2 separate regions of the Homo sapiens genome follow, and region 1 is linked to region 2. A link means that fine-mapping ties the variant in region 2 to the expression of a gene that starts in the linked region. Tissue or cell type: unexposed skin. Region 2 holds a variant in brackets; the other region holds the start of a gene. All regions are shown on one strand. Distances are between the middles of the regions.

Region 1 (5,000 bases), 23 kb before region 2:
TCTTGCCATTGCACTCCAGGGTGGGGAACAAAGAGAGACTCTCAAAAAAACAAAACAAGGCCAGGTGCGGTGGCTCACACCTTTAATCCCAGCACTTTGGGAGGCCAAGGCAGGTGGATCACCTGAGGTCAGGAGTTCGAGACCAGCCTGGCTAACACAGTGAAACCCCGTCTCTACTACAAATACAAAAAAAAAAAATTAGCCAGGCGTGGTGGCGCGCACCTGTAATCCCAGCTATTCGGAAGCTGAGGCAGGAGAATCGCTTGAACCCAGGAGGTGGAAATTGCAGTGAGCCGAGATCACGCCATTGCACTCCAGCTTGGGCAACAAGAGTGAAACTCCATCTCAAAAAAAAGAAAGAAAAAAGAAAGCTTTCAGGACACCAGGCCATTTCCTGGGTCTGTTGTCTTAGGTCTGTTTGGTAAATATTCTGTGACTAAGCATGCGTAACCTTCTGGGAATACAACCCAGTAGGTCTCAGCCTCCTTTTCCCCATCCCCTATTCAGGATGGATTGGCTTTGGTTAGAATGCCTCTGACCGGATCATGTGGGGAAGAGCAACTGTAGAATAGCTGAGTCCTGGAAAACAGGCCTCAGGGAACAGCAAAGGCTGGGGATGAGGAAAGGACAAAACACCACCTGCTCTGTTGCTGTGCAGGACTGAGCAAGAAGCACAGGATCAAACTCAAAGTTAGTTCCAGTCCTGATTTTGGTGGTAAGACCCAAGGAAAATTCATTAACAAACATTGTGCTGCCAGATACATTAATAAATCCCTAAAAGGGCCTGTAATTCAGTTGAAATGAGTGAGAAAAATCTTAAGGATCCTTATAAATTAAATAAAAACTCCTTGCTCTCAAGCAATCATTTGATTCACTCTATATCAACGACTGTGCACTTTAGCATCACCTGAGGATCTTTAAGAAAGTATCTGTGCTAGGCCTCATTTCCAAGGATTTAATTTGTCTGGGGATGGAGCCCCAGGACATTCCTAGTTTTTGAGGGCTTCCAGGTGATTCTAATGCATAGCCACGGTTGGAAGCCCTGCGCCTATCTCACAGGTGTGTGGGTCTCTACTCTCTGTGTCCGCTTAGTTGCCAGGAGGCAGCAAGTTAGCCCACGTGTGCAAGATGCTTCCTTCCATACCAGGTAGGAATATTGCTCTCTTAAACTTGGAGTGTGCCTGGGCAGAAGCTCTGGAGCCCAATACCTGCATTTTACAAGTCAGATTGCTGCTTTTTGCTCAGTGCCTGTGTGCCTGCATACATGGGTCTCCTGATACTCAGGCACGGCAGATGACTTTCACCTTTGTTTTAGTGTTTTGCTCACTGCTGCATCTGCAGAGCCTAGAATGGTGCCTGGTACACAGCAGGCTCTCAATGTCTTATTAATGAGTTGCCTTTTCCAAGGCTGAAGTGATCGTGGGTGAATTCCAGAAGACCCTGCATCATTTTTATTTATTTATTTATTTAAGACGGAGTCTCGCTCTGTAACCCAGGCTGGAGTGCAGTGGAGAGATCTCAGCTCACTGCAAGCTCCGCCTCCCCCGTTCAAGCAATTCTTCTGCCTCAGCCTCCAGAGTAGCTGGGATTACAGGCAACCACCACTACGCCCGGCTAATTTTTTTGTATTTTTAGTAGAGACGGGGTTTCACCATGTTGGCCAGGCTGATCTCGAACTCCTGACCTCAAGTGATCCGCCCGCCTCGGCCTGGGATCACAGGCGTGTGCCACCGCGCCCGGCCTAGAGGCAATTTTCTATTTCTGACTTGTTAGGCTAGTCAGAGCGAGACGTCTTTACAGGTTTGGGCCGGCAGCTGGAAAAGGCACACGGCCCCGGGCTCCTCCTCCACCCAGCCCCACCCCTCCTCCGCTGAAGACCAGCCCTAATAAGGCAGCCACCAGAATTAGAACCAGGTCAAGTGCACTCCGAGCAGGACAGTAGGCAGATCCTATCTGGCGCATGCGAACGCTTCTGTGCCAGTTCCTTGAAGAGCAGGCGCAGACTCAAGGCTGTTGCTTCCGCCCTTACTCCCCGCCGCTCGTCCCTGGGCGGGGCGAAGGCTGGGCTGGGGGAAGAGGCGTGGCGGCGCTGTGCGCGTGCACAAAAGAGAGCTGAGGGGCGGGGGCGCTGCGGCACAGCTGGTTTGAGCAACTGAACTGGAAACAAGATGCAGGTGAGCTAGGACGGGTCTCGGGTCTGGGGGCTGCGGCCCGTTCCTTTGTCTCGTTAGGCCCGGGCGGGCAGTGGACGCCCGCCCTGGGGGAAGCTCCGGCGCCGCAGGCACGAGGGAGGCCCGGCGCGTCCAGGCCCTGCGCAGGCGCAGTGCGGGAGGCGGGCGTGGTCCCACCAGGACCCACGGCCTGGGCGTCCCCGCCTCGGTGTGCCGGGTCCCCCAAACCTCGTCCTCCGGGACTATGTCTTCTCGCGGTCTCTACCCACCCGGGCCTGTGAAGGTCTTGCCGGATCCCGCCTAACAAAAGTTACCTCCTCTCCTGAACTCCCCTAAGGCACACCTGGGCAGAGGTGTTAGGAAGCGGAGGGTCCGGCCTGGGGTCTTCCGCACGTAAAGCAGCGCCACAGCCGGTGTTCCTGGCTCCACTGAGAGCCAGGTGAGGGCTTAGTTACACCCTCTTCCCCCGAGCCCTGGGATCCGCTTGGGGCGTGTTCCCTATCTGACCGCTCGGGTTCCAGAGCTCCCCGCGAGGGTCCCTCTGTTTCGTCCTTTTTTTTTTTTTTATTAAAATAGGTAAAATAAATTATTTTTCTGTAGCTGCAATTTACTAGCGGAATTTGGTTAAAGCCTAAGGAGAATGAATGAAAACACCATGGAAATGGGCACTATTGTGGGTGAAAACCTATGCCAACTAAATTTTGTCACTGTCCAAAGATCCCGCAGTGGTCAGAAATTCTAATCTCTGCTTAGTGGCAGATGGAGAGGAGAGGGTGCGGGTTTTGCTGGGGAGGGAGGCATTAGGGGCTGGAGGGGAGGGCGTGTCTGCCAGGAGCCAGACACTGTTTTTTTTTTTTTTGAGACCGGGTCTTGCTCTGTTGCCCAGGCTGGAGTGCAGTGGCTCTGTCACAGCTCACTGCAACCTCGACCTCCCGGGGCTAAGCCATCCTCCCTTGTCAGCCTCCGGAGTAGCTGGGACCACAGGCGTGCACCCACCACTCTGGGCTAATTTTTTGTGCAGATGGGGTCTCCCTATGTTGCCCAGCCTCAGCCTCCCAAAGTGTTGGGATTACAGGATGAGCCACCGCACCTGGCCTAGACACTCTTAAATGGTGAAGTGGTAGCTTGAGGGCTGCCCTGGCCTCCTTTGCATTCCCTGTCCTTCAGGTCCCTTGAGGCCTTCCCTGACCACCCTGTAGAAAGGATTCTGCTCTTTTTGTTTGTTTGTTTGTTTGTTTCTTTTTGAGACAGAGTCTTGCTCTGTCGCCCAGGCTGGAGTGCAGTGGCGCGACCTCGGCTCACTGCAAGCTCCGCCTCTCCAGTTCACGCCATTCTCCTGCCTCAGCCTCCTGAGTAGCTGGGACTACAGGCGCCCGTCACCACTCCCGGGTAATTTTTTGTATTTTTAGTAGAGACAAGGTTTCACCATGTTAGCCAGAATTGTCTCGATCTCCTGACCTGGTGATCTGCCCGCCTAGGCCTTCCAAAGTGCTGGGATTATCGGCATGAGCCACCGCGCCCGGCCTCATTTTTCTTTTGATGTATCTCAGAACTGTTACACAGGGTTGGGGTTGGAGACCGATTATCCCGGTGCCCTTTTCACAGTGCTCCTGATTTCATATTCCAAAGCAAGCCTGAGCTCCATTAGCAGTGTTCTTGCCACACCATGCAAACCGGTGCTTGGGCAGCTGGGTTCTAGATCTAAGAGCCACTTTTACATCAGTCTTTGTGACAATGATCCTTTGTGATTTTGATGCTGGCTGATTTGGCCAGCCGTTCTAGCATGGCAGTGCCTCTAAATGCCGTGCCTCTCCTAGGCTTGTGAGGATTCAGGGACAAGGTACAAGAAAAAGGGCTTAGAGTGCCCTGTATTTTATGAGCTACTCTGAGACGTCTCAGCTTTTCCTCTCAGGTTTGGCCATTAGAGAATTCTGTCAGCCAAGCCTCATCTGCAGCCTGAGATCCTCAAAATGTCACAGTCTCTTTGCTCTTGGGCAGTATGCATGCCGCAGGCCGCTCTGCCTGGAAGATTATTTTCTTGATTACGGGCGTGCACCTGGCTAATTTTTGTGTTTTTAGTGGAGATGGGGTTTCACTATACTGGCCAGTCTGGTCTTTTAACTCCTGACCTCAGATGCTCCACCTGCCTTGGCCTCCCAAAGAGCTGGAATTACAGGCGTGAGCCACTCCACCCAGCCTGGAAGATTTTTTTTTTTTTTTTTGAGACAGAGTCTAGCTCTGTCGCCCAGGCTGGAGTGCAGCGGCTCGATCTCGGCTCACTGCAAGCTCCACCTCCCGGGTTCCTGCCACTCTCCTGCCTCAGCCTCCCGAGTAGCTGGGACTACAGGCGCCCGCCACCACGCCCGGCTAATTTTTTGTGTTTTTAGTAAAGACGGGGTTTCATCATGTTAGCCAGGATGCTCTCGATCTCCTGACCTTGTGATCCACCCACCTCTGCCTCCCAAAGTGCTGGGATTACAGGCGTGAGCCACCGTGCCCAGCCTGGAAGATTATTTGTAAGCCCCCAGACTCCTATCACAGATTGCTTTCCACCCTCAGACGGAATGTCACCTCCTCTGTAGGGAACATCCCTATCTACTCTGTGGAATGTGGGTCCTGGGTAATTCTCTAAAATGGCAGCCTGTTTGTCATTGCACTTGCCACAATTTTATCTCTCTATGTATAGTTTGTATATATACTTGTTTGTTGCCTGTCTCTTCCTCTTGTCTGTAACACAGGTGACTCTCGCATTCACCACTCTTCCCCATTGCCTACAATAATTTACATGTGGTAGATACTTCAGTTTTATCTGTTGAATGAATCACTCAG
Region 2 (7,843 bases):
GGAGGCGGAGCTTGCAGTGAGCCGAGACTCCGTCTCAAAAAAAAAAAAAAAAGAAAAAGATGCCCTAAGCTGGTAGTACCTCTGAGCTCATAGCCAAAGCAACTGCGTATCTATGCTAGAACACACCTTTGATTTAGCCTCAAACTCTCTCCTAGAAGCTCCAAGAACATGAGCTTCTAGTAAAAATATCACAAACCCACAAAATCACAGGATGCCACAGATAAGGCATCCTGAATGAAAGCCAGCAGAAAACAGACAGCACAGCCAGACCTGCAAAGACAGGAGAGAGGAATTTTCAGACATAAAATATACGATGAATGTTTTTTATATGTTATATAAAAGTGTAAAAACGTATAAAAAAGTTTTTTATGTTATATAAAAGTGTAAAAAAAAAGAGTACCTTAGATAAAAATGAATTCCTTAAAAAAATAACTAACAGAACAGCGAATTAATGAACTAGAAAGCAGAGCCAATTCCCCCGAAGCACAGGGTCAAATGGGTGGGACAAATTTTAAATGTTACATTTAAAATCTGTGATCCTGGCTGGGTGTGGTGGCTCACGCCTGTAATCCCAGCACTTTGAGAGGCTGAGGCAGGCAGATCACTTGAAGTCAGGAGTTTGAGACCAGCCTGGCCAACATGGTGAAAGCCTGTCTCTACTAAAAATACAAAAATTAGCCAGGTGTGGTGCACACCTGTAGTCCCAGCTACTCTGGAGGCTGAGGCAGGAGAATCACTTGAACCTGGAAGGTGGAGGTTGCAGTGAGCTGAGATAGTCACGCCACTGCACTCCAGCCTGGGCACGGAACGAGATTCCATCTCAAAAAAAAAAAAAAATGTGGTCTTGTGTTAATTTGCTAAGAAAAAAGATGTGGAAGACTGAGGTTTTCTTGCATGTCTCAGATAAACTTTAGGAGAGAACTGGAAGTAGAAAGTATTTGAAAAGATAAAGACATTTTCCAGAATTGATGCAAGCCACCAATTCACAGATTTGGAAACTTACACACATCCCAAGTGAGTTAAATAAAATAAATCCATACCTCCATATATATTGAAGCTGCAGGATATCAGGCAGTGACAAAAGTCAGACCACCTATGAGATAGTAACGATGAGGCTTACTGACTTCCCAACAGCAGGAAGGAAAGCCAGAAGACAGTGGAATAGTGTCATCAATGGCTTAAGGGAAAAAGCAGCTCTTAACCCAAAGTTGTTTATAGCCAGTGAAGCTGTATTGTAGGGATGAACTAGAATGAACTAGGTGAAATAGACATTTCAGACATAGAATAGATGTGTTTGTCACCAATGGACACTCACTAAAGGAAAGTTAAGGAATTTGCTGCCAAGAGTGGTGGCTCACACCTGTAATCTCAGCACTTTGGGAGGCCGAGGTGGGCAGATCACCTGAGGTCAGGAGTTCCCAAGAGCAGCCTGGCCAACCTGGTGAAACCTCATCTCCACTAAAAGTACAAAAATTAGCCGGATGTGGTGGTGGGCACCTGTAATCCCAGCTACTTGCAAGGCTGAGGCAGGAGAATCGCTTGAACCCGGGAGGCGGAGGTTGCAGTGAGCTGAGATCGTGCCACTGCACTCCAGCCTGGGAGACAAGAATGAAGTTCCGTCCAAAAAAAAAAAGGGAATTTGCTTTGTGCAGAAAGATGATGAGCTGATGTAAGGTCTAAGGTTCAAGAAAGCATGTTGGCCAAAAAAGGGGAATGGAAATCTTAATGAACATTGACTTCACATAGTAATGCAAAGTCTGTCTTCTTTGGGACATAAAGAACAAAATACAACTAAAAAACAGGACAAAAGAGTACACAAGCTGAAGGAGGATAAACTGGAGTTCAAGCATTCTTAGACCTTTACAAAGTATTCAAGAGTTTGGCAAACTTATGCATGTTAAAAATATTTTTTTCAAGGTAACAGTAAAAGAAAAAAAATTGAGTGTATAACTTTGAAAGTAATGGGGGAAAAAATCTCAGTTAATTCAAAAGAAGACCAGATGGAAGAATAAAAAGAAACAGAAAAGCAGGTCTTAGAAAGTCCAAAATAAGATTTTAGAAGGAAATCTAAAACAGTAATCACAGTAAACATAAATAGATAACACTCTTAATAGTCTTACCATACGATCCAGCAATCATGCTCCTAGGTATTTACCCAACTACTTGAAAACTTAAGTTCACACAAAACCTGCACACAAATGTTTATAGCATCTTTATTCATTATCGCTCAAAACTGGAAACAATCAAAACATTCATCAATAGATGAATGTATAAACACACTGTGGTATATCAGGACAATGGTATCTGCTTCAAAAGGAAATGCGCTATCAAACCACACACACACACACAAAACGGATGCTAAGTGAAATGAGCCAGTCTGAAAGGGGATGTGGATATTTATCTCCTGATCCTCATGATGAAACTTGACCCCAGTGTTGGAAGTGGGGTCTAATAGGAGGAATTTAAGTCATGGGGGTGGATCCCTCATGGATAGATTAATACCCTCTGATATGGTCTGGATCTGTGTCCTGCCCAGATCCCATGATGTTCAATTGTAATCTTCAGTGTTGGAGTTGGGGACTGGTAGGAGGTGGTTGTATCATGAGGGTGGATTTCTCATGAATGGTTTAGCACTATCCCCCTTGGTACTGTCCTCACAATTGATAGTGAGGGAGTTCTTGTAAGATCTGATTGTTTAAAAGTGCATAGCACCTCTCTCTTCACTCTCTCTCTTGCTTCTGCTCCCACCACGTGAGGCACCTCACTCCCCCTTTGCCTTCTGCCATGACTGGAAGCTTCCTAAGGCCTCCCCAGAAGCAGATGCCAGCATCATGCTTCCTGTACAGCCTGCAGAACTGAACTATGAGCCAATTAAATCTCTTTTCTTTATAAATTACCCAGTCTCAGGTATTTCTTT[A/T]TAGCAACATGAGAACAGACTAACACACCCTCCCTGGAAGGGAAGGGGGTATGCACAATGGAATGAGTACTCACTCTGTTAATTTCCGTGACAGCTGGTTGTTAAAAAGAGCCTGGCACCTCCCTCCCCTCTCTCTCGCCATGCGATCTTTGTACATTGGTTCCTTTCACCTTTCACCATGAGTGGAAGCAGGCCGAAGCCCTCACCAGAAGCAGATGCTGGTGCCATGCTTCTTGTATAGCCTGTAGAACTGTGGGCCAAATAAACCTCTTCATAAATTACCCAGCCTCTGGTATTTCTTTCTAGCAACACTAAATGGACTAAGACATAACATTCTGGAAAAGGCAAAACTGTAGATACAGTAAAAAGATCAGTGATCACCAGGGGTTCAGGGGAGAGTGGAAGGGTTGAATAAGTAAAGCACATGGCACTTTTAGGGAGTCAAACTATTCTGAATGATACAATAATGGTGGAGAGATGGTAATAGGGGTTCGTCAAAACTCATAGAACTTCATGGCACAAAGAGTGAATCTTAATATATGCAAATTTCAAAAAATCTTTAGAGGGTTTGGGGAATGCCTGGATGAAATGCAGAATGGGGCAAGACAATCTAACTGCATTACAAATGTATGAAACAGCCTCACAGAAGGGGGCTGGGGGAAATGTGCTAACCTAAGCAGCACTGGAAATGAGTCCATGAGGGGAAGGGCAAAAGAAGCTGTACACAAGCCCTGTCTCTAGTTGATAAAGTCATTTATCACATGGGTGTGAATTAACAGTTGTAACACTGCTATACATATAAAGAGAATCGAACAGTTAAATACATAGATGGCAGATGGTGGGAGCCAGGTTTCTCACTGTTATCATGAGAGGTTACAGATAAGTGGGGGGCAAAGGTGAGTGTAAGTGAGAATAATCCATGTGGTAATAGATTAGAGTTGGAGTCATCACTATGAACTCCTGTTTAGGTTTTGTCTTTTTTTTGAGACAGAGTCTCGCTCTGTCGCCTAGGCTGGAGTGCAGCGGAGTGATCTCAACTCACTGCAACCTCCACCTCCTGGTTCAAGCGATTCTCCTGCCCCAGCCTCCCGAGTAGCTGGGATTACAGGTGCCCACCACCACGCCCAGCTAATTTTTGTATTTTTAGTAGAGACAGGGTTTCACCGTGTTGGCCAGGCTGGTCTCGAACCCCTGATTTCAAGTGATCCACCTGCCTCTGCCTCTCAAAGTGCTGGGATTATGGGCATGAGCCACCGTGCCTGGCCACTCCTGTTTAGTTTAATATAGATACAGATGCTTATGAACAGAAATATTTAGGTAATGTATATGCATTGGGTAGTATACACACGCACATTTCCTTGCTCTGTCAGTTGAGGGAGGCTGAAAGAGGAATGACACCCCAGTAGCAAAGAACATACCTGCCACTTAGATCTTGATTTTTCTCCAAAAAAGGAACCAATGCTCTTTGAAGAAATGGCTGATTCTAAAACTGAAGCAGGAAATATACAGGATAAGCCTGGAGCATCTTGTAATTCCAGAACACAAAAAACTGCTGAACAAACAAACACAAAACCACAATGATGAGAGTACGTCAGAGGTCCAGGAGCCAACTGACAGATCTCCCAATAGCTAAAGCCGGAACAATTTGGGCAATATAATAAATATTGGATTATAACCCAAAATATAAAGTACATATCTATGAGTTCATACTGATAAAAAAATGATTGAATAAATAAGTTGCCAGGCGCGTGGCTCACACCTGTAATCCCAACACTTTGGGAGGCTAAGGCGGGAGGATCACCTGAGGTCAGGATTTCAAGACAAGCCTGGCCAATATGGTGAAACCCCATCTCTACTAAAAATACAAAAATTAGCCAGGCATGGTGGCAAGCACCTGTAATCCCAGCTACTCAGGAGACTGAGGCAGGAGAATTGCTTGAGCCCCGGAGGTGGAGGTTGCAGTGAGCCGGGATCACGCCTTTGCACTCCAGCCTGGGTGACAAGAGCGAAACTTCAGCTAAACAAACAAACAAACAAACAAAAAACACAAAGAAACCCATATATATGTATACACACACACACACACACACACACATATATATATATATGAATGGAAATAAATAAATAAATAAATAAGTGGAGGAGAAGAGACCATCGCCCAGGCAGCATTCCAAATAACGTAGAGATACTCTACTTAAGATATTCCACTCTTTAAGGGTGGGTTGTCCATAGCAACTTCCTTCCAAAGTGTACAATATGAAAAGGGAGGTGGGAAGAGTACCTTTTTTTTTTCTTTTTTTTGAGTTGGAGTCTTGCTGTGTTGCTCAGGCTGGAGTGCAGTGGCTCGATCTCGGCTCACTGCAACCTCTGCCTCCTGGGTTCAAGTGATTCTTCTGCTTCAGCCTCCCCAGTAGCTGGGATTACAGGTACCCAACAATAATTTTTTTATTTTTTTATTTTTAGTAGAGATGGGGTTTTGCCATGTTGGCCAGGCTGGTCTGGAACTCCTTACCTCAAATGATCCACCCATCTCAGCCTCCCAAATTTCTGGGATTACAGGCGTGAGCCACCGCGCCTGGCTGGGAAGAGTATCTTTATAGTGTAGAAACCTAACACTATCTCAGCTGGGTGATCAAGGTCAAAATCAACAGTGATGAGTCATACTGGTAGTACAGACCCTGGGTATGATGTAATGAAAATGACGCTTTACTTCTTTGGTCTTCCTCCAAAAAACCAAACCACAATTAAGACAAAAACATCTGACAAGTCCAAATTGAAGAACATTCTACAGAATAGCTGACTAGAAAAACTATCAACGTCATCAAAAACAAGGAAAATCTGAGAAACTTTTATAGCCAAGAGGTGCCTAAGAAGACCTGACTAGTAAATGGAATATGGTGTCCTGGATAAGGTCCTAGAACAGAAAAAGTGCATCAGTCAGAAACAACAGAACTCTGAAAGCAGATAGACTTTAGTTACTAATTATGTATCAATACTGATTCATTAATTGTAACAGGTGTACGATGCTCATGTAAGATGTTAAGAGGAGAGAAAACTGGTGCAGGATATATGAGCACTCACTGTACTAGCTTCTGAATTTTTCTGCAAATCTAAAACTATACTAAAAAAATTAAATTTATTTTAAAATATGGCAGTTCATGAATCACATCAAAATGGAAATTGTGCCAGGCACGGTGGCTCACCCCTGTAATCCCAGCACTTTGGGAGGCTGAGGTAGGCGGATCACTTGAGGTCAGGAGTTCAAGACCAGCCTGGCCAACATGGTGAAACCCTGTCTCTACTAAAAATACAAAAAATAGCCAGGTACGGCGGAATACACCTGTAATCCCAGCTACTTGGGAGATTGAGTTAGGATAATTGCTTGAATCCAGGCGGCGGAGGTTGCAATGAAGTGAGATCACACCTCTGCACTCCAGCCTGGCTGACAAAGAGAGACTCTGTCTCAAAAAAAAAAAAAAAAAAAGGAAATTGTAATCCTGTAAGAAAGGTGGTACTCAGTTCTTGATTGTCATGTGTCTATAGTAAAGTGCCAGAACTAAAGGGACACATAGGTGTTAGTTTGGGTCTGCCCAGATGCAGAGCCTGAGCGGGGACTTGGGTACAGTTTGTTCGAGAGGAGATCCAAAGATGCAGGCATGTGGTTGGGTGTGGTGGCTCACGCCTGTAACCCCAGCATTTTGAGAGGCTAAGGCAGGCGGATGACCTGAGGTCAGAAATTCTAGACGAGCCTGGCCAACATAGAGTGAAATTCCGTCTCTACTAAAAAGTACAAAAATTATCTGGGTGTGGTGGTGCACATCCGTAGTTTCAGCTACTTGGGAAGCTGAGGCAGGAGAATCCCTTGAACCCGGAAGGTGCAGGTTGCAGTGAGCCAAGTTTGTGCCACTGCACTCCAGCCTGAGTAACAGAGCAAGACTCCGTCTCTCAAAACAAAACAAAACAGAAAAAACAAAGATGAAGGCATGAGAGCTTTGAGAGACAGAGGCAGGGAAAGGGAAAAGCTGACAGAAGGGTGGGAATGTGAGGTCAGGGCTGGTGGCAGCGGAAACTCAATCCCTTTGAAACCTCTAAGAAGCATGTAGATGACCTCCCAGAGTTGTCCACCCACAGAGAGGATCTTGCTTTATCACCCAACCCTGGCCTCCACCACTTGAGGGTGCCCCAGGGGAGTGAACTGCCCTCCACTTCCGGGCTGTCCTTACGCAAAGGCTGAGCAACTGTCTGTGTGCCTTGGAGAAGGACTTCACAGATGACCCAGTGTGGATGCTGGTGGTGCAGCATGAGTCTGAACTTGCACAGAGTTTGGTTCTATTTTTTTTTTTTCCCAAGCCAAACTGTATGCAGCTTTATTAAAGATACTTTCCATAAACAATCATGGTATTTCAGGCAGGACATGGGCAGACAATCGTTAACAGTATACAACAACTTTCAAACTCTCTTCTTCAATGGACTACCAGAAATCAGAAAGCCACTATAAAACCCAATGAAGTCTTCATCTCATGCTCTGAATAGGGAAAGTTTGGAGTGAGGGTTGACATTTCACATTTAGCATGTTGTTTAACAACTTTTCACAAGCCGACCCTGACTTTCAGAAAGTGAAATGAAAATGGTAGAATTTATCTGAAGATCCACAATCTAGAAATGGAACCACTGCTCTTTTGACAGGTGCCATCTCAGTGGCATCACTGGAAAGTCCAGATTGCCTGACACACTGGTAACCAATGATTGAGGGTCAGGTCCCAGCAGATGTCTGGGTTTAAGGGAGTTAATTTTCTGCTGAAAGATGGAAAGGGAGAAGAGGACATAAAAACGAATTTGTTTTCCATACCACAAGGCTTTTGTGCCAAGGTGGTCATGTGTGTCAAAGTCAGGGAATCCCTCCTCCTGGGAGCCAAGAGGAAGTCT

The links. PIP is the estimated chance that this variant, and not a neighbour inherited with it, causes the effect.
Region 1: it holds the start of PDCL3, and the variant in region 2 is the best candidate, but not a certain one, in a credible set for the expression of PDCL3 in unexposed skin (GTEx, PIP 0.60).

The regions. Positions count from the first base shown.
Region 1 is chr2:100,560,900-100,565,899 of GRCh38, forward strand. It overlaps PDCL3 (phosducin like 3), which reads left to right and starts at 2,094. Exons shown (of 6, transcript NM_024065.5): 1 at 2,094-2,174. The coding sequence starts at 2,169. RefSeq lists an enhancer at 839-1,635 and a silencer at 2,081-2,420.
Region 2 is chr2:100,582,664-100,590,506 of GRCh38, forward strand. No RefSeq gene overlaps it. Among named protein-coding and RNA genes, the nearest start is that of LINC01849, 17 kb to the right of the region's middle. The variant A/T (reference allele first, on the strand shown) is at 2,918.